Homo sapiens: one gene and its partner. The protein of the gene in region 1 interacts with the protein of each later gene in a biochemical or structural test. Each region holds a gene or a part of one and is shown on either strand. Other genes may lie near its edges.

What was found.
Region 2: the proteins of PRR16 (region 1) and LNX1 interact in a test that uses a peptide from one of them, tested with the Homo sapiens proteins (one large-scale study listed by IntAct).

The regions. Positions count from the first base shown.
Region 1 is NC_000005.10:120,684,300-120,687,814, reverse strand, and holds the end of PRR16 (protein Largen), read right to left. Parts: intron 1,862-3,515; coding exon 1,106-1,861; 3' UTR 501-1,105; downstream 1-500. UniProt on the Homo sapiens protein: Regulator of cell size that promotes cell size increase independently of mTOR and Hippo signaling pathways. Acts by stimulating the translation of specific mRNAs, including those encoding proteins affecting mitochondrial functions.
Region 2 is NC_000004.12:53,479,987-53,483,486, reverse strand, and holds part of LNX1 (E3 ubiquitin-protein ligase LNX), read left to right. Parts: intron 1-1,632; coding exon 1,633-1,767; intron 1,768-3,500.

The DNA.
Region 1 (3,515 bases):
TTATTTGATGTTAGAAGGAAAGATTTCTTCTCTTTCTTTTAGAAGACAGCAACGGCCCATGGTATCTTTCAACTCTGAGGGGGAAAAACTTACGCCAAATGCTGAACACATCCTGATACCAGAAGCATTCAGATATCCCCCTATAATTCTCCTATAAATGTGGGTCCACTTGGGGAGGCAGAGAGCTTGCTAATGCAGGAGGCAAAACACCCTACAGCCTCAATGTAATAGTTTAGGGTACATCCTGGAAGAATGCTGAGTATGAGGAGGGCTTGGCAACATAGGGAGAGTTCAACAGAAGGCTCTTGAAGTACCAAATGGAAGTATAAAATATGTAGTGTGTAGATTTTGATTTATGATGTGGAATATGATATTTCATTTAGAAAATTCTGATATACACTCACTGTAACTTCTCCAAACTCTGTCAGATTTGCTGCCCATATTGAGGAATGTTAAGTGAGATTAAATGAACCACTACTTCATTTTAATTCTGAGGAACATTTGCTTTTGTCATTATTTACTATTGTTTATTGATTTAACAATATTTCCACAGACCAAAGTATTTTATTACATATATAGCTGAGCATGTAATTCATAATTGTATAATATAGAAAATAAACTTCTTGGTATTGGCCTCAGCATTTAATAATGAAAAACTAGTGACAAACATCTTTAGAAAAAAATAATAAAATAGTCCTTCAGTATTAAAATTTCCTAGTAAAAAGCATTAGATCAAAGTTAAGAATATGACATGTTAATGCATAGATGACTTAGGCATAAATAAAATGAATCAAATCCCAGCTCTTATAGTAAATCAAAATAGGTGAAATCTGCAGGTTCACAGTTTGTCATAGGTCAATTGCAAAAACAATGCATCATTCATATTTTTCATCATTCTGAGGTTTTTAATGATACAACATTTAAAATAATGCATACCCAGGATATAAGCAATGTGCTGCATACTTACCAGGTGATTTTTATGCCACTTTGCTGAATGCAGGATTAATATATTTGGGCTTTTTATTGCTTGAGTAGAAAGTGCTCATTACTTATTTTATGTTTATAATATAGAAAATTAAAAAAACAATTTTTTTAATGGCATACATCACACGGTTGTAGTGGTTGACTTCCTCAAGATCGTCTTCTGTGGTTTTGGTGCAGTGGGAGGAGGCACAGTTGCAGGTCTGATAGGGGGGAAGCTGTTACTGTGGCTTATTCCCATTCCCCCATTTTCTAGTGGGAAAGGAGGGAGATGGGGTGTAGGAGGGAGGGGAGGGCCTTGGTGAGGAATCTTTCCCGGTGGGTGGACAGGTTCACTGTGTAAGTGGACCTCCCTGTTTTTTATGTTATACCGGGTATCACAGTCAGGACAATAGCCATGGTACTGTACTTTTTCATTAAACCGAACTCGTTCTCGAGGCCCTGCCTGGGGACATCTGTCTTTTTCAGGTCTATGCATCAGAAGCTGGACTGGAGCCTTGTCCAAGTTACTGTTGGGTATGCAGCAGATATCTCCATTTGGAATTTTGTTAGGTCCACCTGGTAAGCCTCCATTTCGTAGAAGGGTGCCATTGGTTTTTACAGGATTGGCAGTTGGAACCACCCTTTTGGGGTCTTCACACTTCACAGGTGTCAACCTTGGAGGAGGTGGTGGAGGGTTTGGCTTTCTCAGGACCGTGAGGATAGCAGACGGGTGTGCTGGGGGTTTAATAAGCGGTGCATTAGCCTGCACTTTGATCTTCTCTAGGCTGGAGGCTGTTGTGCCACTTGAGCTACTATTCAGCGTGTCCGTTTTGGAGCTGTCAGTCATCTCATCCTCCAGCTGTAGGTCAGAGGTCAGGGTGTCAATCTGGTCAACCACCTAGTGGAAAGGACAAGGTAATTGTTTTGAAGAATGACCCAAACAAAGTATACTAGAAACAATTTATTTTTGTCTAGGGGAAATCTGCTATGGAAGCCTTAACTGATATTGAACTGAACATTCCATTGCTGCTTGATGTTTTCAGTCAATAAATTTACAGAATAGTGACCATCACACAGAGGACCAACTGTATGATAATATAATTTAACATGCTTAGAACATAACATATGATTTATATATACATTCTATTTCTGACTCTGATATACCCACCCATAAAATATGAAACCTGATGCAGGAATATAACTGATTTTTAAAAATAATCAGAGGGCATTTCCCTTCTGCTTAACATGCAGAAAGCTGTAGGAGAACATTGCTTCCAATCTTGAAATTAAAAAAAAAGATAATCTGCAAAATCATAATTTTCTTGAGACCAACAGAGACTTGACCTCACAAGGCAACCAAATGAACTCAACTGTTGAGAGTTTCAAGCCCTCTGAGGATATACAGAAAACATCAACTGTTCAACCTTTAGAAAATCACAGGAAAAAAAGGCAGCAACCATCAGAGTGAATGAAGAAAGCAACTAAAACTTTGATGACTAATTAAAGGTTGAATATGTGCTATTATGACAATTTAGAATCCTTGGGAGTCTCAGACACAGTATCATCTGTACTCACTCATGGCCTCCTTTACACAGACCTCTCATGCTGAGAGGAGGAAAGAGATGGAAGAGAGCCCCTGGTGGGCACACAGGCACAAAACCCCATTTACTTCTCAGACTGTTCTCCCTTATAAAGCAGAACCTTTACTGGTGCAGTAGCAAGAAACCCTCCAACCTGTAAGACACAGGCAAAGATATTTTGCTTCTGAGAGAGGGTAGAAGCAAAAGCTGTCTCGCCTTGGAGAAAGGGAAAGAAAATTATCTGGGCCCAGGACCCTAAACTAATACAAAGCAGATGTTTACTATCACTGGGTGAATGACAGGAAGTCACACCAGTCAAGGGCTACTACAGGTACCAGGCAGAGGAGCCAGGGACTCAGATAAGGCTGGCAGAGGCATCAGAGCATAAGACAGGTGGGAACCCACGTTAAGGAGAGAGGTTGTGAAGATAGGAACATTGAATGGAAGTATCTTAGACAATGCAGTTCTAAGGAGACTTTGGCAAGGATACTGGGGAGTCTGACATCTCCCATAACAGGGCAACCTTACTGTCTCTGCCCTGTTCAGTCATTGGCTGGGAGCAGCAGTGTGGTCACTGCTCAAATGCTGACTTTCAGAGTACAGCATCAGGGTCCTCAGTCATTTACACTCTGCATTCAGAGGTCTTGGAGGCCATTCTCATAGCCACCATACCTGCACTGTTATACACATATGAGAATGGAAAAGTTATGGATTGTTTTAAAAATAGTTTATGTAAGGAGACAGTTCCTTCATTTCACACATTTCCATCACATTTATTCCATATGGAGATTTTTCCCTCCTCTCTTACTTAGGTCTAAGTTTAATCAACTGTGAAGTTGGCTCTTTGTCACATGGTGGCAGGATTGGGCTCAAAATGAAAACACCAAAAGCATCTAGACGTTGGACAGGATATAGACTTTACTTCCTCCTCATGAGGCTCTTAAGTGATTGATTCCACCAGGCAGGTAAAGG
Region 2 (3,500 bases), on another chromosome or scaffold:
GAATGACCTGCAGCTCTGAAATCTCAATGGTCAGCAATTCTGGAATAATGGCCCATACTACCTGACACATGTGAAACTAATCTGTGGCAGAAAGACAATTTGTAAATGTATCATTGTATTTGTCTGCTCTCATGCTGCTATTAAAGACATACCCGAGAATGGGTCATTTATAAAGGTTTAATGAACTCACAGTTTTACATGGCTGGGGAGGCCTCTCAGTCATGGTGGAAGATGAAGGAAGAGCAAAGGGATGTCTTACATGGTGGCAGACAAGAGAGCCTGTGCAGGGGAACTCCCATTTATAAAATCATCAGATCTCGTGAGACTTACTATCTCGAGAACAGCATGGGAAAGACCCACCCCCATGAATCAGTTACCTCCTGCCAGGTCCCTCCGATGACATATGGGAATTATGGGAGCTACAATTCAAGGTGAAGTTTGACTGGGGACACAGTCAAACCATATCGATGATGTGGAGTGGACCTTTCCAATAAGTACTATATTTGCTATTCTGAATGCCTGTCCAAATATCAATGTACATAGCAGAGAGAATTAGCAGAGTAACTGGTAGTTCCATAAAAAATAAAGAAATCAAGGCAAATTACTCTTTTGCAGTTTTTTAAACATTTTGTATTTCAATAGCTTTAGGAATACACGTGGTTTTTGGTTACATGGATGCATTGTATGGTGGTGAAGTCTGAGATTTTAGTGCACCTGTCACCTGAATAGTGTACACTGTACCAAATAGGCAGTTTTTCATCCCTCACCCCACTCACCCTCCCCTTTTCTGAGTCTCCAAAGTCCATTATATTACTCTGCCTCTGCATCTCCAGAGCTAAGCTCCCACTTACAAGTGAGAACATGCAGTATTTGATTTTCCATTCCTCTGTTACTTCACTTAAAATAATGGCCTCCAGTTCCATCCAAGTTGCTGCAAAAGACATTTTTTCATTCTTTTTTGTGGCTGAGTAGTATTCCATGGTATATACATACCACATTTTCTTTATCTACCTATCAGTTGATGGGCACTTAAGTTGATTCCATGTCTTTGTGATTGTGAATTGAAGGTAAAGGATTTTGATTAGGTTGTACATATTAATGTATGAAGTCATCCCCATATTTCTAAAGTGCTAAACCTTTCCTATGCCCAAATATTTGCAAGTGTCAGGCTCAGGATTTCTCTTCCTGCAGTGGCAAGTTACTGCCATTAACTCCATCTCTTTTTCTTTACTGTGTACCATTGATCTTAGATCTTTGCTTTGGGCTGCTACTTTACACAGTGCACCTAATTCTATCTGGGAAGAACTTAGGGCATGGCTTGTGTGTGGTACAACCATTAATTAAAAATGAATTAGCAATATCTGATGATGCCTTTTCAAAGATTGGAAGGAACCAAACCTTCCCTAGTTTTCCCTTGGAGCAACATTTACTACCTGGTTTAAGGATAAAGGAAAGAGCTCTCATGCTCTTGGCAAATTACAAGATGGATAGTAACAAAAAAACCCAACAAACTAGAAATCATGTTTTGCCATAAAAAAATGGTATAATCAAAGTGATGTTTTTGTAAGCTCCTGGTGCTGAATGCAGTGGATGGAAACTGACAGTGGCTAATGCCTGTGTCTTCTTGCCCAGGCCAGTGAAAGACGTGTTCACCTCGTCGTGTCCCGCCAGGTTCGGCAGCGGAGCCCTGACATCTTTCAGGAAGCCGGCTGGAACAGCAATGGCAGCTGGTCCCCAGGGCCAGGGGAGAGGAGCAACACTCCCAAGGTGAGGCCTCTAGGGCAGGTCGCCTGCTCCTGCAAGGGGCTATTTCTTGGGAAGGCTGCTTGTTTTAACATGTCTAAGTGTCATCTCTGGACTTTTTTACTTAAAGAAACACTTTGACTTGTAAAACTAAAAGCCCAAAGTCCCATATTTAAGACTTGGAGAGATAACAGGTGTCTCCCATCCAAGCAGGAGAGAAGAAGGTGCAGGAAAGTTTTGAAACCTGATCATGCAGACCTCATACAGGGACCTGATTTCTAGCCTAAGCCAAATAAATGGCATGTTTTTACCAAGAGTCATCTTGTTTGAGGACTTATTTTATTCACTTTGAAATGAAGCAAGCAGTTTGCCTGGTTTCTGGCTTTTGAATTTTTCAGTCTGCCTAGAAATGAGTGATTTCCCCGCTACTTTTAGTTTTTGTTTGTGTTTGCCGAAGGGCCCAGGAAGATAATTTAAACACTTGAAGCTCATGTAACATTAGGGAGTGGTGGGGATTGGGGCAAACCAGAGAGCACATGTTATATGGCATTCAAATCCAGAAAACTCTAAAACACTGTGGATCTGTGGGTGGAATTCATTCTTCAGGCCACCAGTTTGCAGCCTCACTTTAAATGAAGTGACTCAGCCCAATTTGTACTTCTCTCTGTGGCTTCTATTAGAGGCAATGCCTTAACCTCTTCATTTGGATGCGTGTTTAAGCAACACAAACCTTGTTTAGTCCAAATTAAGAGTCCTATAGCTTTGGCTTGGCATCCTGTTGTGATGCTGATGAGCTTCTTTCAGTCATCTCTCCTGAGTTCTGGTTTCATGGCATCACTTGTAACTAAAAAAAATTCTTAAAGGTAGCTCATTCTTCTTGCAACAGAAAGTAGGGAATGCCCTTTTCTTTCTACGTCAATCTATATGTTGGTTGGAATAGCTTACAAATTGAGTTTTTGAGTAATATATAGAGAAACAATATTCAAATTTTTTATTTTGGAACATCTCTGCTTTATACTATGTTAATTACATAGCCTACAAGGTTATACACCCCTCCAGGTTCTCCAGCCAGCCAAGCCTCATAAATCCATAAATTACCTGTTTCTCTACAATAAGGAGTCTAGACAGACCAGATATATCCTGCTAAAACATTTTATGGATAAGGACTCCGTGATGTCTTTTTGCTAGTAAATGCTTAATGTTTAAATTTAACTGATCATCTTTATTAATGAAAAACTAGTTTATTAGCTTAATTAATTAATTGAAGTTTTTATCCAATTAACTAATTTTAGTTGAATTAACTAGAATACGTCATATTCTAAGTCATCAAATTATGGAGAAGGTAGCCTCCATCTGCACTGTGGTTTTAGAATTCCTTCCACCTCCTCATCATGAAAGAGCTGGGAGGATCTGGTCACATTTCTGCTGCAACCCTCTGTCATATGTCTTAATTCCTGGAAACGTGCAAACTGACTTAGTCGGAATTGTAATTATTTCCGTTTTAACTTATATTCTATCTGACTTCTGAAATATCCTCACAAAAAAGTAACATATTTAAAAAAACTGAGACATATATGGCTCTTTGATTATTTCAGTTTTTATATTCTTACTAAAATCTTGTTTGGTTTAGGAAACCAGGTAGCTTTTTAAAAATAAGAGCTTAAACAATTCAAAGAAATACCAAAGAAGACAAAGCAGGATTTGTGGGACAGAAAACTTTTAGCCAATTAAAAAAGTTAAGGAATGCTAGGCATCAA